2 separate regions of the Homo sapiens genome follow, and region 2 is linked to region 1. A link means that fine-mapping ties the variant in region 1 to the expression of a gene that starts in the linked region. Tissue or cell type: whole blood. Region 1 holds a variant in brackets; the other region holds the start of a gene. All regions are shown on one strand. Distances are from middle to middle. Region 1 overlaps ABHD2 (abhydrolase domain containing 2, acylglycerol lipase). Region 2 holds the start of ABHD2 (abhydrolase domain containing 2, acylglycerol lipase).

Region 1 (11,709 bases):
GTCACACCTTAGACTCATCAAGAAAATGTGCTAGAGAGGGAAAAAAGCAAAGAGAAACTGTTGGGCTTAATGTCTCTGGATTATTTTTAAAAGGAAAAAAAAGAAAAGGAGGTAAAAACTGCCACAGTCAGCTTTCTTTTACACTTTGAACAATTAGTATGGAATCAAACCTTACATGATGTTTTTCTGGAGCCTGGGCAATAGCAGCTTTTGCATGGCTTCCTTCCTCTAATTACTCAGGAACCAATGCTGGGTGGAAATTTGCACTCATCTGCACAGAAACTTGCAGGGTTTTAAATACTTTGGTTTTCAAGAGCTCTCTAAGAATGAGATGACAAAAGAACTGGGTCTAGCAGTCCTACCCAAACTGTAAGCTGAAAGTGAGTGCAAATTTCAGTAACAGTCGAAGTTATTGATCTAAATTAAGTATTAAAAAAAATTCAGGCCGAGCGCCGTGGCTCATGCTTGTAATCCCAGCACTTTTGAGGCTGGCAGATTACCTGAGGTCAGGAGTTCAAGACCAGCCTGGCCAACATGGTGAAACCCCGTCTCTACCAAAAAATACAAAAATTAGCTGGGCGTGGTGGCACGTAGTCCCAGCTACTGGGGAGGCTAAGGTAGGAGAATCGCTTGAACCTGGGAAGCAGAGGTTACAGTGAGCTGAGATCATGCTACTGCACTCCAGCCCGGGTGACAGAGTGAGACTCTGTCTCAAAAAAAAAAGAAAGAAAAAAAGAAACATTCAAAATATGACTATGACAAATACTGGATGATTTTCAAAACATATACCGTGCACACCCTTTACAGAGCTGATTTTTAACTGCAAACACTGCATATAAGAACACCATGTCCTTGCTCTTGTGCCTGGCTGTGGAGGCTACTGTAATAAAAAGTCCCCTCAGCAGGGGCAGTTCCAAATTCAGTATGATGACATTTATAGTGTCCACCACTATTACGCAATCTCTCTCTTGACTTGGGGTCATGACATCACTGTCACAACTATGAGAAAACTGCATAAGAATACCGCCCATGTACACCCAAAACACCTAAAGCACATAATAGTACATGTGAAAATTAACTAGACAACTACACAAAGCAGGGGCCCAGACTCTCAGATGTTCATTGCCTATTTGTCTGCTCTTAGAAGAGAATCATTCACCCAGTGTCCCCAACAGCCAAAAGAGGTGATGAGAGGTGCTATCAGGATGCAGGGAAGAGCTTCTACCACCACTGGGTCTTAGCAACTGCATTAGTCATGTGCTGAACGGACACACTTGAGGAAGACATCTCTCTGAGTAGCTGCAGCCTGAGAAGGCACAGGCAGAATGGAGTAAGCTTGAAAAAGCACAAAGCGAGTGAAGCAGCATGACAAAAGGAGTGGGGAATTCAGACCCACTGTGCACGAGGCTTGGCCTGAGCCCTGGAGGAAGACACAGTCATTCAGAAGACATCTATAGAGAAAAAGTGAACACTGCATCTCTTGAAAACAGTATGTGTGACACAGAGTGCAGATTCCCTTCATTTTACAACTACAGTTTCCTCTGTCAGAAGCAGAGCCCGCCCCTGCTGCCTCCAAAATACAGATCTGGAGGAAGGTGCAGTGGCTCATGCCTGTAATCCCAGCACTTTGGGAGGCCAAGGCGGGCAGATCACTTGAGGTCAGGAGTTCAAGACCAGCCTGGCCAACATGGCGAAACCCCGTCTCTACTAAAAATACAAAAATTAGCCGGGCATGGTGGAGCACACCTGTAATTCCAGCTACTCCAGAGGCTGAGACACCAGAATCGCTTGAACCCGGGAGGTGGAGGTTGCAGTGAGTCGAGATCATGCCACTGTACTCCAGCCTGAGTGACTGAGCAAGACTCTATCTAAAAAAAAATACAGATCTGGGCTTCTATAGGGAAACCTGGTTCACTCATACAAAGCACTCTCTTTAAGTGCATTCTCTTAGCTAATGCTTGGTACATTTTTCAACAAGGCAGATGGAGAGTACTCAACTAATGGATCTGTGCTTTTTTGCTTATTAATTATTTTGGGTGAGGATAGTTTCTCCATCCTAGAACTGGCAACAAAGCATTCGTTAAAGGACTAGAATATTGTCCAACTTTTCCATATCTGCCTAAAAATGACTACTATTTTCTGCAAAGTCCCTGTCATGGATAATGACATCACACTGTAGAGGAAGGAATGTTTCAGGCAACAGAGATCTGATTCTCTCCTACCCTCCAGGATTCAAACACTAGACTGCAATCAGACTGTGGCTATTTTAACACCAGTGACGTCATATCCCATTGATGCCTTAAGGACACGATGAGAGAAGTTTCTTCTTTGAACATCACACAAAGCCAAATACATCAGCAGCTGAGCATACAGAGGGCATGAGGTCTACTCACTCTTTGGTCAGAAGAGGACAGGACTTGAGCAGAAAGCGTGAGAGCCCCGAGTCCTGGAAGTAGAGGTCAGGTGGGGCTGTGGGGCTCTTCAGGTTCAAACACCGGACGATCACGTACAGCACAGCAGCCACTGCAGCCAGCTTCACTCCATCAAACACGGCTGGGAGTTCGGGAGTCTCCAGCATGGCATTCATCTTGATCTGGGGAGCAGAGGCACAGGTCTAAGTTTACAAGCACAGTGAGGACGGGTGGTGCCCACCACCCTACAGACGCATGGTGGGCTAAGAGATACTGCCAGTGACGGTGTGTCACAATTCAGATGTTTCCGCAGGCTCCTGACAGGCAGACACCACCAGCATCTTACAGCTACTAATCAACTGGCCATAATCCAAATCACAAACAGTCTGAGCATGGATAAACTGGGTACTGTGTTTTCTTTTTATAATTTCACAAGCATTTCTAAGATGAGCAAATCAGAAAATTGAAAAATGCTAAGAATAGTGTCCTTTATCGGAGGGGGAAAAATAAGATCAGTCGAAGAGGTGGCTGCAGGACTAGGGGTAGCACTTTGATTTTTGTTAACAGGTCATCCTTTTGTTTTTTTTCCTCTCTGTAGGCTTAACCTGCACCTGGTGCCCCAGGTGTGTGTTAAATGTTGTGTTTACAGCCTTGAACAGAAACCCGGAAAGGACTGCTGGTGCCACCAGGTGTGGTTGTACTGCCTGCTGGCTTCACCCCTTTATTTGCAGAGCAGGCTGAGATAAAGCAACCTCAGCCTGACTCAGCCATCTGCTCCCCACAGGCTCCCCAGTGCTGGAGTCTGGGTCAGACTCAGCCCAGGTCGCAGCGATCCTGGCTACTAAGGGTTTCAGGAATGAAATAGAGCTCGGCTAGTTTGTTTTGTTTTGTTTTTTCCCCCTGCGGAGGCTACCTGACTATAGCCATTAGTCCAAAATTAGGTTAAAAGTAAACCAAATTGACCACTAGGTCAAAATCTAAAATTGGAATACAGAAAATGTATATGCTCATCTGGCCTTTCCCAAGCTCTCCCAATATTTCTCTTTTGAAGTAACTTTACCTTATATACAAAACACACACACACACACACACACACACACACACACACACACACACACACACACACACACACATACCTCCAAACATATAAAACCAAACATAAGCAATGACAAAAGCAACAGCAACAAAAATCCAGTATTTTCCTTGCTGCTCGGCAGAAAAACAGAACATCAGCTGTTAACCTTAAAAATCAGGGAAATCACAAGCTAACAAAAAAGAGAAAATGGTAACTCTCATAGCCAAGGTAGCTATGGCAACAGCTTCCCCTGGAATGGTTTCAAGTAGCCTCTGCTAACAACAGTCATCATGAGAGCTCTGGTAGCCAGTGCTAGAGACAGGCAGAACAAAACAATCTCCACCAACTGTGTTTGGGGTATAACCGACTGAACTTTCCTAAGACCTACAGTAAGTCCAGAGAGGACTCAGAAACCCTTTTCTAAACTCGAGGTCACTTTGGCAGAAAATCTCTGGCAGGGATTCCTAATTCAGTAATGAATGGAAGTAAAAGATCACAGCTCCGTAACTAGTCTTCCACCATCAGGGCAAGACAAGGATTTTTAAAAACTTACTGACACAATTTCAAATCAAGGCTAGGCCATGAATATAAACTCAGCTACACTGAACTTCTGTGAGGAGACAGTTTTCCTAAAACTTAACTTCTGGGCTGGGCACCATGGCTCATGCCTGTAATCATGCACTTTGGGAGGCCAAAGTGGGTGGATCACTTGAGCTCAGGAGTTCGAGACCAGCCCTGGCCAACATGGTGAAATCCTGTCTCTACCAAAAATACAAAAATTTGCCGGGCGTGGTGGCACATGCCTGTAATCCCAGCTACTTGGGAGTCTGAGGCAGGAGGATCACTTGAACCCGGAAAGCATAGGTTGCAGTGAGCCAAGATCACACCACTGCACTCCAGCCTGGGGACAAGAGCGAAACGCCGTCTCAAAAAAACAAAAACAAAAAACAAAACAAAAAAAACTTAACTTCTGGTGACACTCCTCCTCACTCCTGGGGTCATATCCCCTGAAAGCTGTCTATAAACCCCTAAAACAAGGATCCTTAACTTGGGGTCTGTGGGTTCCCTGTGGGATCCTGCGGTCTAAGAACCCCCTGAAATCATGTGAAAGTTTGTGCACATGAGCAGTTTTCTGGGCAGAGGGTTCGCAGCTTTAATCAGATTCTCTAAAAAGGGTCTGTGGCCTAAAAAAGTACATAGCACTGCACTAAGATGCCCAATAGGTTTAACCTGTGGCTGCCATTCCTCACCTTGTCCAAACCCTGCCACGGATGCCAAACAAAGGCTAAACAAATGTCCAAGATGATGCAGCTTGTTAATATAGGCTTTTAAGTCTCCACATTCTATTAGAGGACCAAAACTAAAATCCACCAGAAATTCTCTGACTATATGCTGGTAATACAGAACTGAACTAGAAGTTCTTCCTCATCACCTTTGTTGGAAACAGAACAGGGTAATGCAGCAAGTAGTTTCTACCAGTTTCCTTGTTGGTTTGGGGTGGACTTGTTGAATTAAACAAGTCAGTCCTTCCCTTCCCACTTCTATTCACTGCTTCCTAACATAAGGGGAGGAGAAACAAAAATAAGAGTCTCAGCAATACATACCAATGTTACTTATTCTTCCCACTGCAAATACGAATTTTCCTTGAAGAGTTGTACAGTTGGGCCGGTCAGGTCAGATCTCTTATTCAAACAAACCTAAAAGCTAAAAAGATTGGATGGTAATGTTTTAAAGAACGAAAAAGAAGCAGTTTAATTGAAACGTAAGCACAGTCAAGTTCCTCTGCATTTAAAGTCTTTAGGGAAAAGACAATTTTGTTAATTAACATGTATGCCACACTCTTGAATGTTTGGCCTTTTTAACAAGCCTGCTGCGGGAAGGCTTTGTGAATCCACCAAGACTGACAGGCTCTCTCTGGTTTCTAGGACAAGTTTTCTGCTGTGTTCCTAATTCTGGCTAAAGCCAATTCACACTGCTTTGAACCTTTATCTCACAACATAATCTCCAGAAATGCCTAACAGGACAGGTAACATCTCTGTGTGACCAATGAAATAACTTAGCAAGGCTTGAGATCGAGACAGCACAGCCAGTCGACTTATTTGTTCTCTTCCAAACATACAGCAGGGACAGAAAAAAATATGAGCTGAGAAAAGTAATAGGGCACAGATGGGCTCAAAAACAAAGTACCAGAAACAGAACAGGGCCAAAAGCAAAAGGTAGGGGATTGCATTGCTTGTAGGGTCTGAGTTCAGACTATGGCCAGAGGCTGGCTGCTGAGAAGCGCCAGAAGCTAAAAGTGCTTGCTGTCAGATGGGGGACCTGAGCTGAGCCTAGTGCAAGAAGCTGCTAAAAGATCTATGGCTTCCAAAGCAGCAGAAGCAAAAGAGAGAACATGGGGGAAACAGCCCAATGTTTATGCAGCACTATCTACGTGCTAAGCTCTGCTCTTCAAACTTGACATATGGTAGCTCATTTAATCCTTCCTGTACCCTATGAGGTAGATGCTATTATTACCCCATTTTATAGACAAGGTAACTGAGACATAGAAAGTTTAAGTTACTTTCCCAGTGTCATACAGCTGGTGGGTAGAAAAGCCAGCTTTCATATCTGGCCCAAGAGATCCTCCTCTTAATCACCATGCTGTGCTACTTGAAGGCAGGTAAGTGAGAAAGAAAGAGAGGCAAGCAAGAAAATGGATGGTGCAGGAGACACACACAAGACACCAGAGGCTTGCCCAAAGTCAGACAGCTGTAAACAGCAGAGCTGGGATTCAAGCCCAATTTCTTTTTTCTGATTCTACCACACCAAAATGACCTCAGAAGAAAAACAAAGCCCATTGAAGGAAAGAATCAATTAACCTTCAGAACAGTCTTGCCCAGCTTCCAATTATTATCTGTCCCTATTCTGAGACAAATTAGTCATAGAGGACCAGGCTGTGGTGAGGTGGGGCCGGAAGAGCAAAGTCTTCAGCCACATCACAGGCCACCTGACCCCACAGGCTTGGCTGCCAAATGAAAAACAGGGCATGGACCAGATCAAAGATCCTAAACTGGCAGCCCATGGGGCAGGCAGTGTTGCATTCAGCTGGCATTTAAAAAAAATTAATTTATTCATTGCCATATTATTAACACCAGGAGATTTCAGATAAAAATCTAGATTTCTGGTTTCTCTTGGAAACAAAATCAGAAGATTTGGCAACACAGGGCCAGCATTCTCACACGGCAACAATGGACAGAGCTGAGCAGGGCTGCCCCGCTTCAGACCCAGCAAGCTCTCTCCAGGTGGCCACAGTCCCCACCACTCCCTATTAGTGGTGACCTCAACACTGATCCCTGGCCCGCTTTAATAATGTATGGTACCTGAATGGTCCCCGTAAGCATCTGAATATGCAACCTTTGGAGAAAAGCATCTAAGGTCCCTTCTAGCCCTGAAAAGGTCTGTGTTGACTGAATATTTGAAAAATATACAATCAATATATATATATATA[A/TAA]ATAAAAAATCCCTAGAAAAAATGATGGAAAGGCAGAGTGGCAATGCTGATAGGATAACAAGATGTAGTGCCTTTTATTTATTGATATTTTCATTGAGGTTTATTTATACCTTAACTCTTTCCACAAACTATTTGAGACAGCTTCAAGAAAACACCCTTACTGAATCTATATGCATAGGGAAAGATATGGAAATGTATAAGACTGGTGAATGCTTTCTGGCTTCCCTTAGCTAGGTGAGTCCATGTAACTAAATTCTGGTCAGCTCTGGAGGGGTAGATCTAATTTTTGGGAAAGCTCCTTAGAGGGCAGGGAGTTCACCCTTTGTCTGCCCTTTTCCCTTCTTGCATCCCTGGAATGCAGAAAACATGGCTGCAACTCTAACAGCCCTCTTGGGCCATGAAGTGACCTTGAAGTCTCTCTAGGAGCCCCATTAAGATGACAGCAGGGCAGAGAGACAGAAATCTGAATTCTTGACAACTTAATGGAGCCACCATATCAGATCTAGACTGCCTATCTCAGGACTTCTTTTACATGAGAGAATGAGCAGTTGAAGCCACTGTGACTTCTAGACTGTTTTACTTGGCAATTTCTAAAGATATAGAAGGAAAATTATATATTCAAATCTTTATGAATGCTAAAATCACTGCGTTATAAGAGTATTGGCGACTTCTTTTTTTCTATTTCCCAAAATTCATAATGACTACAAACATTTTTATTATTAGAACAAAGCTTTAAAATAGCAACTAAGAAAATCTAAGGAGAAATTTTAAAACACTGGAAAGGAAAATATGTATGTCAACATACACAACAATTATATATGTGATAAAGCTTTAATGCATGTGATTATGCTTTAATTAATTTATCTGAGCTTTCTGACTGTCAGGGGGAAAAGGGAAACCCAGTCAGACCTATGGTTTCCAAAATGGAAAGAGAGCTAACATATATTGTGCTCTTACGCCCAGTGGCATAAGAGAAACTCTGTGGAAACAGGGCTTATCTGGCACAGAATTATTTAAAAAAAATGTGGGACTTTATGTAAGGGGACCTTGAGTGATGTGACAGACAATGTCCTCCCACAACTTTTTTTAAATAGCAAATGCAGTAGAGAATTAATTTCCTCAACCCTCAAAAAATGCCAAGGTTTTAAAATTCAATTCAATTCAGGGAAGGCAATTCTATGAGAGATTTATAATTATTGTGGTCCAACTACACAGCCTCGATCCAAGGTTTCAACCTGAAGTCCTGAGGTACAGGTCAGTTCTGCATGTCCCTGGGGGTACTCCCTGGAGTTTCAGCAGGCTTAATTAAGTACCTGACTACCTCCTGTGCACCTAGCACTGTGAAGGTTGGCAGTTAAGTAAATTCTCATTTTAACCAGGGAGAAAAGAAATTTATGTTAAGGCTATCTGTACTTTAGAAGCTTAGATAAAAATCAGTCCAGAAAAAAAAAAATTAAGCAAGGAAGTCCTCATGGAGCAGCTAGATCTAGAACCCAGCCTTAGCGAATGAAGTACAGTTGTTCCTCCTTAACTGCAGGTTCAACCAATCAGATGAAAATTTTTGAAAAAAAAGACAATAAGGCCGGGTGCAGGGGACTCACGCCTGTAATCCTAGCACTTTGCAGGCCGAGGCGGGCGGATCACTTGAGACCAGGAGTTCAAGATGAGCCTGGCCAATATGGGGAGACCCCATCTCTACCAAAAATACAAAAAAATTAGCCAGGTATGGTGGCACGTGCCTGTAATCCCAGGCTGAGGCAGGAGAATCACTTGAACCTGAGAGGTGGAGGTTGCCACACTACCACACTCCAGCCTGGGCAACAGAGTGAGAGTCCGTCTTAAAAAATAAAAAAAAAGAAAATAAGAGAAAAGATAGTATAAAAAGAAAAATTTAAATAAAAGCAATACAGTATTTAAATTATTTACATCATTTACTTTGTAATAGGTATTATAAGTAATCTAGAGATGATTTAATGTATATAGGAGGATATGCATAGGTTATATGCAAATACTATGTCATTTTATATCAGACTTGATCATCTGTGGGTTTGGTATCTGCAGGGGAACTGGAACTATTTCCCCAAGGATATACAGGAACGACTGTATAAAATGTAGAAGCATGTGTAAGTATGAGTGTGTGCATGTACGTGCATATACATAGGTATTAAATGAGGAGATAAGTAATTTTAGAAGAAAAATTTTCACATTCACTTTATCTTGCTGCATTTTGTTTTATGGTATTCTTTTTTCCCCAAGTCTGACTTGTCACTATATATTAATATTCTGAACTTGTTCTAGATACAGCAAACTCTGATTCCATTGTATTATTTTGTGTGGCCCTCCCCACTTTCCAGACAGGTGAAATCCAGTTAAAATGAACATCAGGCAGCCTAGATAGGGAAAAGAAGTCACAGAGAACAGCTGGAGGGCTGGGTATGTCGCAGATGGAAAGGAAGCGTCTCCCTACCCCCACCCCAAACCCAGCTCCACCTTCATGATGGGCTGGGCTTCCTGTGTCCCTGTGGCAATCCCTTCTCTGTCGGCTAGCCCACACCTTCCCTGCCATTTTATGAATGGGATTTAGGTGCTGTAAATGGTAGTCAGAATTCCATTTATAGTCCGCATTAACAAAGGAAACCAAGGTGCTACCAAATGCCCAACATCTAGTCACCAAAGGAGCTCCCAGTGTTGCCCCTGGTCTCTAAGACAAGCTTGACTGGTATTTCCACCAGAGGTGAAGGCCTGAGCTGTGTCTCCCATGCCTCTTTCTGCTCTCCCCTGGCTAAAAGCATTATTTTCAGATGGAGGCACAGATAGAGTGAGAAACTGCCACTGCACTGGGAAAAGCTCCAGTCTGGGGGCTCTGAGACCTGGGTCCTAGTGTCTGCTCTGCCCTTTCCTGGCTGATGACCTTGAATCAAGGCACTTAATCTTTTTGGGCCCTAAAGGCCCCATCTGTAAAATGAGAAGGTTAGATTAGAAGTAGATGATGCCAAAGGTCTCTTTCAGCTAGAAATGTCTGAGATTCTAGGGACAGAATTGCGGTCCTCGGCTAAAGAGCACAGGAAAAAACTATCGCTGTACTTTGTAACAGAAAACGGCCATTTTCCAGCCTACTTCATAGATGATTACACAGTAAAATTCTTAAGAACTAACAACCCTCAGGGCCTTTGTTCTTTCTTCAAATAAATTAAACAGTTATATATTTTCTTTCAGCTGTGCCAATAATTTCATCATATTCATTCCACCTGCATGGGATCGTGATGCTTTCAGCCTTGGAACACCAATATTCACTGACAGGACACAACTTACAGTGCGGAAAGCACGAACAAACAGAGCAGAGAGATCCCAAACAAAGGAAACCCATTACCTGGTGTAGCAAGTTGAATAGGGACCCTCCCCACAAAATTCATGTCCATCTGAAACCAGTGAATGTGACGGTATTTGGAATTGGGTCTTTGCAAATGTAATCAAGTTAAGATGGGGTCGTACTCGTTGGAGGGAGTCCTAACCCCATGACTGGTGTCCTTGGAAGAAGTGAAATCTGGATACAAAGACACAGATACAGAGGGGAGGAGGCCACGTGAAGATGGAAGTGGAGACTGGAGCCACGTATCTACAGCAAGCAATGCCAAGGATGGCTGGCAACCATCAGAAGAGGAGACAAGCAGGGAACAGTCTTGCCTTCAGAGCCTAAGGAAGGAGCCAACCTTGTAAAACCTGTTTTCAAACTTCTAGCTTCTAGAATGGTGAGAGAATATGCCCAAATTACCTCTCATGACTCAGGAGTTCCACGCTCCTGTCCTTAGTGGCTGAAGGGACCGTTTGCCACTTCCTTCTGAAAGGACCCTTGTTACTCAGACACGCTCCCATCAATTCAGATGACAGCTAACTGACATGAACACCCACAGATGACTTCTTAACATAATACAAATTGCATTCTGTGAATAAATACTTATTGGCTTGGCTTCTTTGCCTCTGTGATTCAGCTATCAGAACCATCCTTTCCTTTCCTCTTAGCTATCAGCAAAGTGAGAGAGCTCAGAGGACACAGACAGCTGGGGGAGGGGGAGATCTCTCTTCCTTGCAACCCTCAAGGACCTAGCACAACAAGCTTTGATACTTATGGGTCCTAAGGCAAATACCTCTCAAGGAAAACCAAACCAAACCCCTAAAGGATTTCTCTGTTCCAATTCCATCTGGTTGAAGATGTAAATTTCATTTAGGGTCCAGTCCTGCAGTGACACAGCCAGTGCCAAATCCAGCCACAGTGTTTGTCCTGGGGCAAGTTCCTTAATCCCTCTGAACACCATCTGTAAACTGAACATGTTAATACATAAAGAGCATTTTAAAACAATGCCGGCATACAATACTACCGTATTTTTAATATTTTGGGGTACTACCGCAAAATATTCGCTATTACCATCTCCACTATTAAACTTTCCTCCATTTTGCCTCAGTAAACAACCTAAGTTGACAGATAGAAACGACCACAAAACATACTCCTTCCTAACTGACACACAAGTCTCATTAGCAATGAACTCACTAGCTGATTAACTGCTTGGGCCTCCTCCAATGAGTTTAAAATTAATTCCAGGACATACTCTTCTTGATTCTTCTAAAATGGAACCATATCTTCTAAAATGGAACCATGTTAGACTTAATAAATCACTGGATACTAAGTGGTGATCATCATGTCCCATAAACAGTTCCAAGATGCATTGTTCTTGTTTTCT
Region 2 (11,709 bases), 25 kb after region 1:
AAACAGAAAGTGCTGTGACAAAGGGCAGGCTTCCTCTTGGACGCCCAAAGGCAGGACAAATGGAGTGATGCTGTGGTGCAGGAGACGGGATGAAATGCAACAGAGATGCTGGAAATGAGGCCAGGCACGGTGGCTCACGTCTGTAATCCCAGCACTTTGGGAGGCTGAGGCAAGAGGATCACCTGAGGTCAGGAGTTTGAGACCAGCATAGTGAAACCCTGTCTCTACCAAAAATACAAAATTAGCTGGGGGTGGTGGCGTGTGCCTGTAATCCCAGCTACTTGAGAGGCTGAGGCAGGAAAATCGTTTGAACCCGCGAAGCAGAGGTTGCAGCGAGCCAAGATTGCGCCACTGCACTCCAGCCTGGGAGACAAAAGTGAGACTCTGTCTCAAAAAAAAAAAAAAAAAAAAAAAAGAATGAAAAAAGATGCTGGAAATGTGACTTGGGGAGGCCAGGAAGCTTCTCTGGAGAACAGAGAGCAAACGGCAAACTTTCCCTGGAAATGCTAGCACATTCTGCACAGACGGCAAGGCGAAGAAGGGCCCAAGGACCAATGCGTTCCTCACTCTCCAGTGCCCCAGCTCTCCCTTCTCAGCTGACCTTTAGAAGCTCCCCTGCACCTCCCCCGGGCTCTCACAGAAAAGAAAAATATTTGCCTCCAAATATTCACAAGATCTTTAAGATCTCCAGCAAAGCTGCTGCCTAAATAAGACTGTTTTTTAGCATCCTTAGAAACAGAAAACAGATATCTAAAATAGACGGCCTTCATAAAAAATGACGTGGAAGCTCTTTTCACACTGCCAAGAAATATTAAGTGAAAAAGGCAAGGTTCCAAATAGCATGTATGCAGTGTGCTACCATTTCTGCAAAAAGGGGTGGTGTACAGAATATGTTTAACGAATTTGCTTACAGATGTATAAAATCCCTTGGAAGTTCAGGGACCACTTCTGGAGGATGAAGAAATCGCTAATACTGGTTGCCTCTGAGGATCAGGGGTCAGGGGTACACACAGATGTATTTACTAGTTAACCTTTTGTGCCTTTAAAAAATTTTCTTTCATCATGTGAATGTATTGCCTATTTTTAAAAACTAAAATTTGAATTAAAAAATTTTAAAATTTCTATTAAAAACAATTTTAAAACAAAATAGTTTTTAAGCAACAAACCAAACTAATTTGTTAATCTTGTCAACTGTGTTCCTGGCACACACCAGATGCTTAATTTGTTGAACTTAATGAACCTCCACTTAAAGACAACAAAAGAAAATCAGAAACCAGGCAAATCCAAGGGTACCAACGTTCCACTTCTCTAAAAAGCTCTTCACCTGTCTGCTATTTATTGTGAAAGATCAGACAATGAGTCGGTGTGTAACAAGCCCCTCACCCAAATGGCCCCAGTCCACAAGCTTCAGGGGTAATGGTGGAGCTTATCGTCTGTCCACACCAACCATTTTACAAACAGAAAACATTCAATCCAAAAATATGATGCCCTGGACAAGACAACAAAAATCAATCTGCAGATATGAAAATCCTGAAAGGAGATAATGTAGCATCTGTATGGTATCAACAAAGAAACAGCAGCACAGGGCTTAAAAATGTCCTACTCATGCACTGGCCAAAAAGGCTGAACCATGAAAAGCTGCTATAAAATCCTGACACCAGACACATTTAAGAGGCACCCTGAACTTCTCATTGCTCTGTTCCTGGGGATAGCTTAGCCCAAGATGAAACAGAAAGGCTAAAGCAACTCATGCCCCACATCATCTATACTCTGAAACTGGTCATGGAGTACTCAAAACTCACAATGCAATAAAAATGGGAATACTGTAAGCTGTAGGTCATGGTAGAAATTCTGCCACACAAAATTCAATTATATTGGAAATGTCTCTCTCCTGGGGCTTTTAAAAGAGCCAGATTTTAGGCAAAAAATAAGACAGACTCTACCCCTGTCTCCCATAAGACCAAAGAAATTATTTCCTGCTCGGGGCAGGAGCTCTGAACAAGGGCAGTGAGAACCACTACAGAGGTTATGGGTCCTGCCGGAGATTACCAGGAAAAGGCGTAAATGCTTAAAGCAACGAGTAACAGCAAATGAGAAGCTCATCCACCAAAATACTGAGAAAAGAGAGTGAGAAAGAGAGAAAGGGGCCCATATTAATACACAAGCAAAGAAATGAAAACTATTATTCTAAAATGGCTGATCTCTAGAACAGCTTAAACAAAAACCGAAATTCAGAATCAACTCAAGAAAAATAAAGCATGAGAAGGTGCCATTTAATGAAGTGATAATCTTTGGTTCAATCTAGAAAACAAGTAAAAACAGAAGAGAAAATCAAAGGTGACTGGATTCCTGCAAAAAATGAAAGTGGCAGGCATCTTTTCATCAAAAGGGAATTGGCTGGCACACTGAGAGTGCCTATTTGTCAGACCCACGCAGGCGATAAAGGAAATGAAGGTGAGAGTAAAAAGGGAAAAAAGTGAACGACCCTGACTAAAATGAGAGGAAAAAGACCATTCCCTTGTACTTGCCATCTGGTTTATTTCAAGCTTTGGAAAAGAACAGGAAAAACACAGATAAACCAGTGAACCAGCTAGATTGCCAGCACGGATCAGTCACACACTTTTGCTTCTGCCAGGCCAGGCAGGCGCTGCTGGTGCTCCCCCTATTCGAATGACTAAGTAACTTCCTTAAATGCAGTTGACACATGATCCCTGAACTTCCGAAAAGCACTTAATACAGTGGCTCATAAAATCTTAATCTAAAAATGTTCATCCATTTAGAATCAAGCTGCATCACACTCATCGCTTGGGAGGAGGGCTGAAGAGAGGGAATACATATTTGGAAGGACACCATGGACACGGGTATCATCCAGGACTTTACCATTTCGAGGGATTCCCACCCCTCACTGCCTGCTTTTAACGATAATTTTAAAGGGTTCAGAGCCTAAGAAGAATGTAACTGCAAGGGGGAACTAACATAGAAACTAAATTACCTGAATCACAAAAATAAGTAAGGTATAAAATGCAACGTGACTTGGAAACCCCTTGCAGCTGTCTGTGTTAAAATGAAATCTGGAATATGTTAAATGAATTTGGGGGTGGGGGGAAGGGGACTGGGGGAAAAATTAGCTCTTGATAGAGTATTGGGTGGTGGATATGAAGAAAAATGTACAAAAAGGCAACAGAATATCATATCTAGCAAATCTATTGTGCTTACCCTGTGCCAGGTACTGTTCTAAATGCTTCAGATGTAGTAACTCCATGCACTTCTCAAAACAATCTTCTAACATAAGTATCATTATTATTTCTGTTTTAGAGGTGAGGAAACAGAGGCACAGAGAAGTTAAGTAGCTTGCCCAAGGTTGTACAGCCAGTAAGAGGCAGGGCTGGGATTCAAATCCAGGCACTCAGGCACCAAAATCTGTCCTCCTAACCTCTCTGGACTCCCCTAGAACTTAAAACACTGAGAATGGGCAAACTAAGCTTGGAGTGAAATAAGTCATGCACTGGCTAGATCTAAATACAGTCAAGAGATCAACCCTTAGTCATGGGCCTGTGATGACCAACCAGCCCTGTGACCACCCCAGGCCTCAGTTTCCTCACCTGTGCATTGAGGAGACTGAATGAGAGTCCACCTAATTAGACTTAGATAGAGATGAGCTCTATCTAAGGTGCCTTCAGCTCTAAAATGTCACAGTCCGTGCTGACTACCAGCTGTATATGGACTGCTTTCTGACTAGATGTTCAAAGATTAATTCATCCTAAAACACACAGCAAGGTGTGTTAAGATTCTTTCTCTGCCTCCTGACCTTTAGATTATTATGTTCTCTCTATTCCGGCAAATGACAGAGGGTAGTGAAGGATTTCTCTTTTGGACTCTGCTTAATGTGGCTGTAAGGAAACGGCCTTCGAAAAGCTCTGGGCACAGATCTTGTTGACTCTGCCAAACCTGCAGTCTCTCCAGGTCCCTCTGTGGAGCCTGTTCTTGGAACATGCCTTTGGATTTGGTTACTGGAATGCAGGTGAAACTGACAAACTGGAGGTCCAGCAACCAAAAAAGAGAGATTGGGAAGATTAAGAGAGCGGTCCATGGTAGTTCAAATACAAGGAGTTTCACAGTGGCTAAATAAACCTCTATCTTTTTGTATAATCCAGTCTCTTTGCTAACACCCACTCTTGAGAGCTGAAACCTCAAAATTCATTATGGGTGAATTCAACAGCCACTTGGAACCTAATGGACCCCCAGAAGTACTCTTCTCAAGCTAGGCATCAAAGGCCACTTAGAGTGCATTTGTGGGTAGAGAAGGCCCTTACAGATGGGTCATGCAGTCCTCCCTTGGGAGTCCTAAGCATCCGACACAGGTGGCTGTCATCAGGCCACTGCTTGGACATCGCCAAGGTCGAGGCGCTAGCTGCCCGGCCTGGCAGGCAGCCTCCTGCGCTGCTGGACAGCTCTAGCTGTGGGAAAAGCTCACGAAGGGCCTAGAACAGTGCCGGTCGCGGGGCCGAACTCGGTAAATGTGCTTCCAAGTGGGTCAAAAGCTGCCTTTCTAGAACTTAAACCCACTGGTCCTGCGTGAGCCCCTGGAGCCCCGAAACACAGAGGCCTCTCGGGTATCTCGGGCTGTAATCAGGCCCCTCGGCCCTCTCCTTCCAGGTGCGGATCCCGGACCTTCTTCGCCGAGCCTGAACCGGCAGACCCCTCCCCAGGCCCCTGAAGACCCAGGAGTGAGCACCAATGGGGGAAAGGCCGCGGTCGGGGTTGTCCCCAACCTCGGTTCCTCGGGCAGAAGGGGACAAAGGGCCTCAGGAAGGCGTATCCCCCGCCGCGATCTGGGCTGTCCCCACCACTGGGCAAGCCAGCCCCTGGGACCCCCACGGCGCCAGATGACAGGCCCCCCAGGATCCCCTCAGGCTGCGGCGTGATGGGCCGAGCTACGCCGGGGACCTCGGGGCTCGGAGATTCGGTTCGACGGGTCCGGGGTGCGATCCCCGCTCCGCGGAGCTCGCTCGGCCGTGGCTTTACCTGCGTGTGATTGACTACAGGTGCTCAGCTCGCCCCCAGTCTGGTTCCTGCAGCTCCCCGGCTGCCAGCGGCGCTCATGGATATACAGCCGGAACCCCTGGCCAGTGCAGCTCCCGCCGCTACCGGCCCCGCCCAAGTAACTGCCGCCACGCCCCTGACGACCGCTTCTGCCACGCCCCTAACCACGGAAACCGCTTGTTCATTGGGCAGTTCAGCCGCTTCTCCACTTGCCCCGCGCGCTCATTGCGTCTAGGAGGGGATCCATTGATCAGCGAAGCTGTTCCTCAGAGTGGAGGCGGGATTCTTAGGGGAGAGCTCCTCAGCAATTGGTTACATTTGACGGCTTTAGTCCAGGGACCCAGACGCTACTGGATAAGGCCAGCCCGGAGTGGGCGGGGAAAGGGGAGGAGGGCTAGAAGGTGGGTCGTGTTTGATGTCGATGGGGGCGGGGTGAAGAGACGGGTAATTGTGACCGCAAACTGCTTTAGAGGGCTGGGTAAGGTCAGCTGTCGACTGGGCTCAGAGGAATGAGGTCGGCTGGTAGCTCAGCTGCTGGTAGCTCAGCTGGGGCTCTTATGGGTCCAGGCCGACTGACTGACTCACGTGTACTCAAATTTCGCAGGGGTGAAATTTGAGGTCATATCCCGGGAGAGAGGAAGAAGGGTCGTGAGTCACCGAACCCGAAGGAGAGGAAAAGATGTGGAGGCAGCGGTCTATGGCCTCTTCCAGCTCCGGACGGGGGATGGGGACGCTCTGGGCAATACGGGCCTCAGTTATTGTCCCACTGTCCTTTCAACCCTTAACCAACCCAGTTGGAGGCCGCCTGGAAGAATGTAGCCTTGGAACTAGGGCCTGGAATTGGGGCTCCTACCGGTTGTGTGGGCTTGGGCAAGTCACTTAACCTTCCCGCATGCTCCCTTCACTTGGCAACTGAGGGTAACAATAGTAGTTGATGAGAAGATTAAATAAACTCTGATAAATGCCAACAGTGGCTGGCACTCAACAGGCATTCAATCAAGGCTGATTCTTCCCCCATCACCCACTCACCTCATCCGGCTGGGAAACTAGGCCCATTTCTAAAATTCTATGAGCCTGAAACTGCTTTTGCAATGGCATGTCGTGTACCAAGAATAGAACACTTGAGCGACTTGAAATGCAACCCCTGTAGGGCAGACAAGGCCACCCTACCAAGGCCCCATAGGGCTCGGAGAGAGGGAGCAGGGGATGAAATGAGAGGAGCGATTTAGTCAGAGAAGGGAAGTGGCATTTGTTACCATGTAAATTTTTCCCAACATATTTCAGGTTGTGACAAGGAACAGTGGGCTGGCTCAAGTTTTATGGAGCGTAACCAAATAACATCCTTTGAAGGCTGATCAGCACCGGACCAGAAATCATTGCATGAGCTCTATCTGTCAGAGACCCCTGAAACCCATTCCCCATTCTGAAGGTGTAGACATCACAGAGTGTGGACAGAAATAGCTTCTCAGGCCTGAATGTAGCCCCAGACCCTTTGTGTCTGTCTTTGAAAGAACTCACAGCCATGGTACATCAGAGTGAAGGAGAAGAAAGAATCCTTTGCCATTGCTCTATTTTTCATTCAGTTGTCATGTTACCTTGAAAAAAAAAGGTTTCATCTCAGTGTTTATATATTCCTCTGTATTCTCTTTCATCTTGGAAAAGAAAAACCCAGGCTTCAGTAGCAAAGTCTCTTAGTGATGAACCCCATCGTCCTGACTCTGAGTTAAAACAGTTTGGACTTCCAAAAAAGAGCTTTAGATTATCACTAGATAAGTATATAAGGTAATGCATATGTTAACTAGCTTGGTGTAGCTATCCCACAATGTATACATGTATCAAAACATGGACCGGTACAGTGGCTCACGCCTGTAATCCAACATTTTGGGAAGCTGAGGCGGAGCCCAGGAGTCTGAGACCAACCTGGGCAACATAGTGAGACCCCGTCTCTACAAAAAATTTAAAATTTAGCCTGATGTGGTGGTGCATGCCTGTAGTCCCAGCTAGTGGGGAGGCTGAGGCAGGAGGGTTGTTTGAGCCCAGGAAGTTGAGGCTGCAGTGAGCTGTGATCGCACCACTGCACTCCAGCCTGGGCCACAGAGTGAGACCTTGTTTGACAAATAAACATAATAACATGATAAACATAAATAAGTAAAGCATGTTGTACATCATAAATATATACAAATTTTGTCAATTAAAAATTAATAATAATTTAAAAAATAGGCTGGGCACAGTGGCTCAAGCCTGTAATCCCAGCACTTTGGGAGGCCAAGGCAGGAGGATCACCTGAGGTCAGCAGTTCCAGACCAGCCTGGCCATCATGGTGAAACCCCATCTCTACTAAAAATACAAAATTAGCTGGGCATGGTGGCACACACCTGTAATCCCAGCTACTCAGGAGGCTGAGGCAGGATAATCGTTTGAACCCAGGAAGCAGAGGCTGCAGTGAGATTGCACCACTGCATTCCAGCTTGGATGACAGAGTGAGACTCTGTCTCAGAAAAAAAAAAACAAAAAAGATTTGTCACTAGTTTTGGAGGGGTGTGTACACATATCTATGTACACATTTGGTTCTGATCCACAGTTTTCTGGTTCTTGTCTTTAAACAGTGCTGCTTGGTAGCCATACACATGGCTGCATGCATGTTACGGAAATAGGCCCAGCCCAATACAGGTTTGCTTCTGCCTGTGTTTGCTAAGGGAAAGTGAGATGTCTTGTTAGGCCCTGAAAAGCATGAAGTGGCTCCTGAGATCCAGGATGATTTCTCCAACTTGATTCAGAGCCACAAAAAGCAGCTGTTAGGAGTAGATTGCAGATGGGCTCGCCATTGTGTAAATGGCTTTTTTCTCCCATCTCAGGAACATAGGTTCAGCCACCAGTTCCAGAAAAGGACATCTTTCCAGTTCAGGAATTCTAAAACACAATTATGTCACAGAGGCTCAAAAAGAGGCACAGACTGAGCTCAGGAAGAGGAGGAAGAGTAAAAGGATCCGGGCATCTTCTCTGCAGCTCTGGCAGGCTTAAAGAATGATCCATTATCATTTCCCAGCACACAGAACTGTTTCCTTAATTGTCTCTGGTTTCTGTTTCCTCCCTTCTGCTTGCAGTCTTGCCATATTCTGTTTAATCATATTATTTCATTCTATAAATCATTTCTGAGGGAGGCCATTTAGGAGACAAAATGGACTTATTTTTGCCTTCAAGTTTAGTGGCCCGTTGGGATTGAGGATTTGGTGAGCCTTGGCCTGAGATAAGCAGGTGTTGGGATGTGGCTGTAAAGTGAATTTTCAAAACCGTGACAGTACCTTGTAATAAAAAAGAACAAGGGAGAGGGTATGCCCCAGTCACCTTCTGGGATGGCCAAAGCTGCAGGACTTCATTAAAGCAGAACTGCTTCTAACTCAACTGGGGCCTCTGCAGGATTTACTAACCTGAGAAAGTCAAGGTACTCTGGGAGACAGCAGGGAGCAGTGGTTGGAGCAGATAATATGTTCTATTTATTCTTTTAAGGAAAATCAGCAATTCACTCAGTTTGTCATTTTTGTTATTCTGTGTCCTCGGGGGATGGTTCAGAGAAAGGGGATTTGGAAGCTCTACTGCTGGGGATTGGATCCTGATTCCATCCTTCCTAGCCTTGTGACCTTGGGCGAGTACAGCACATCTCTGTGCCCTACTTTCTTCTGTAAAACGCAGAGGACAGTGAAGTGCTTGTCTCATGGGGTCCTTTGAGTGGCAGATGAGTTCACAGATGCAAAGTGCATCAAACAGTACCTGGCAAATACCTAAAAATGTTTAATAAATGTTTGCCACAGCTATTATAGGAGCCCATTTCAGAACCTTCCTCTAAGGTCCTCACTCATTTTCTAAGTTCTAGCCCTCAGAAGTAGTGATCACAGGATTCAGGATTTTTAGAAAATATAGATAGACTTTATTTTTTAAAGCAGTTTTAGGGCCAGGCGCCGTGGCTCATGCCTGTAATCCCAACACTTTGGGAGGCTGAGGTGGGCGGATCACTTGAAGCCAGGAGTTTGAGACCAGTCTGGTCAATTGGCGAAACACCGTCTCTACTAAAAATACAAAAATTAGCTGGGTGTGGTGACGTGTGCCTGTAATCCCAGCTACTTGGGAGGCTGAGGCAGGAGAATCGCTTGAACCTAGGAGGCGGCGGATGCAGTGAACCAAGATCGTACCACTGCACTCCAGCCTGGGCAACAGAGGGAGACTCTGTCTCTAAATAAATAAATAGTTTTAGGTTTATAACAAAATTAAGTGGAAAGTACAGACAGTTCCTATATACACACTCTCCAACACATGCAGGATTTTTTTTTTTTTTTTTTTTACACTAGCAAAATCTCACCACCTGGTGCGAGAAACTTTTCCTTTCGAATATGGTTACCAAAAACGGTTTGAGGACCGAGTTAAGGTTTTTGAGACTAGACCTCATCAGTGTAATCACTGTGAGGGAAATGGAAAGGATGAGGCTAAGAGAATAATAGTAAAAGCTGCAGCCTGGAGGTTCATAAAGTATTCCTGCAGTCATGACATGGTGCAGTCTGAGGGATCCAATATTGTGGCTTTATTGTCACAGCCGGTGCAGTCTGCATGCAGTCTAGGAAGGAGGTTCAGAATGTCCTGTTACCAGGTCGACTGTCTGGCTTCTTATTGGTAATGGAGATGAAGTTTGTTTAGAGGCTTTAAGTCCCAGCATGCAATAGTTCCATGAGGACAAACTATGATGAAATTCAAAAATGTGGTCCTTTTGTTATTAGAAAAGGCTTTCTGGTGGCCAGTGAAAACGATCATGAAAAATAATCTTGTCTGTGATTTGAGCTGCTTTCTTAAGCTATATGTGAGTTGTCTATAGTAAAATCATAAGATGAACACTCCTGGCTTATGTATGTTGTCCTGGCAAAATTTTAATAGTGCCCTCCCTCCCACCAGGTGACTCTCAAATAGTCCCAATTTGGTTGATAAATTTTATGGTAATATTTATACTTACATATATAGGACCCAGTACTAAAAATGCTCATGAAACACACAAACACACATACACGCACGTGCACGCGCGCACACACACAGATGAAAAAGTGTTCTAATCTTATAATCAGATACATACAGAATATCTGACAGGTGACTGGCTAATGATGACTTCTTCTTAGTCACCATGCATTCCTCTTCCTGATGTCATTCTTAATTACAGAAATAAAAATTGAGTTTTTCATACTATTAATTGCAAAACAGTCGATAAAACTTGTGCATTAAATAAGCTCATCATACACCCTTTCCTACATAATTTTATGTTATTGAGCTATTTTAAAACTATTTCCGGAGAAGGCGAGATGCAGTGTAAAAAAATAACAACAACTACAAAAAACCCACAAAAAAACAAAAACAGGCCGGGCACAGTGGCTCACACCTGTAATCCCAGCAGTTTGGGAGGCCCAGGCGGGTGGATCACTTGAGGTCAGGAGCTCGAGACCAGCCTGGCCAACATGGTGAAACTCCGTCTCTACTTAAAATACAAAAATTAGCCCAGCGTGGTGGCAGGCGCCTGTAATTCCAGCTACCTGGGAGGTTGAGGCAGGAGAATCGCTTGAACCTGGTAGGCGGAGGTTGCAGTGAGCCAAGATTGCACTGAGATTACACCATTGCACTGCAGCCTGGGCAACAGAGTGAGACTCCGTCTCAAAAACAATAACAAACAATTTCCATCTTTCCAGAGACCCCTATATTATTTTACCATATATTTAAATTAATTTACAAGACAGTAAACATTTTTTACTGAGCAAGACATCTAATACTAGAAAGACAGAATCATGAAGTCCCATTCATTCCTAGGTGGGGATGGATATAGGACAAATGGGAAATATTGACGAGATAACTCAAAGGACTGAGCAATAAGCACAGAGTGCAATCAGTGTCAGCAATAATTATTCAGAGGAGGCAGCAATTTCTTCTGACTTGGATTCTTGGAGATTTGAATTGGTTTTTGAAGGTCTATGGGCTGAATTTGGTAGGGCAGCATTGGCGGTGAGGGAGCATGGCATTCCAGGTAGGCCTGTGAGTGGATGAACACAAGATAGTTTGTCCATAGCAGAGTCAAATAGGGACCCAGTAGGCGAGAAGATGAAAAAAATGGATGGGGCTGGTGGTGGAGGCCAGATAATGCCTTCATCTTAGTTAATGGCTTCGTCTCAGCCCCTTGGGTATTTGGATATCCTCGCATAGTTGCAGAGCAAACATCCCAAACTCCAGGCATCTGCAAACCACATTGATAATTTTGACCCTATCTCTGTACTCTCTGCTTTATTATTTACTTAATAATGTTATTAAATTGACTCAACTTTTAAAATTAAATACCTTATTCAGCCCCATCCTAAACCAGTGGTTCTCAACTGGGGGCAGTTTCATCCCTCAGGGGACACTTGACAATGTCTGTGGTTGTCACAACTGCAGGGGTGCTGTTGACCTCTAGTGGGTAGGGGCTAGAGATGCTGCTAACCACCCTCCAGTGCCCAGGACAGCCCCACAACAAAGAATTATCCCAAATGTCAATAGTGCTGAGGTTGAGAAACCTTGTGGGCCGAAGCAATAATATATGTGATATTGCAGGCTTAAAGTGTGATTATAGTTATTCTAATTACATTAAAATCATTTCATAAGGATTAC

What was found.
Region 2: it holds the start of ABHD2, and the variant in region 1 is fine-mapped to the expression of ABHD2 in whole blood (INTERVAL, PIP above 0.99).

What each region holds. Positions count from the first base shown.
Region 1 is chr15:89,107,206-89,118,914 of GRCh38, reverse strand. ABHD2 (abhydrolase domain containing 2, acylglycerol lipase) reads right to left here. Exons shown (of 11, transcript NM_152924.5): 2 at 5,091-5,190; 3 at 2,394-2,593. The coding sequence starts at 2,587. Among named protein-coding and RNA genes, the nearest start is that of ABHD2, 25 kb to the right of the region's middle. RefSeq lists enhancers at 2,785-3,360, 5,925-6,054, 7,128-7,666. The variant A/TAA (reference allele first, on the strand shown) is at 6,974.
Region 2 is chr15:89,081,880-89,093,588 of GRCh38, reverse strand. ABHD2 (abhydrolase domain containing 2, acylglycerol lipase) reads right to left here and starts at 5,133. Exons shown (of 11, transcript NM_152924.5): 1 at 5,026-5,133. It overlaps LOC124903573, which reads left to right. Exons shown (of 7, transcript XM_047433432.1): 3 at 1,348-1,413; 4 at 2,306-2,454; 5 at 4,657-4,754; 6 at 4,903-5,521; 7 at 5,648-6,028. The coding sequence ends at 5,862. CARMAL (coronary artery disease region linked MFGE8 regulatory lncRNA) reads right to left here. Exons shown (of 4, transcript NR_183882.1): 4 at 9,360-11,098. RefSeq lists enhancers at 4,474-4,993, 4,935-5,114, 5,725-6,370.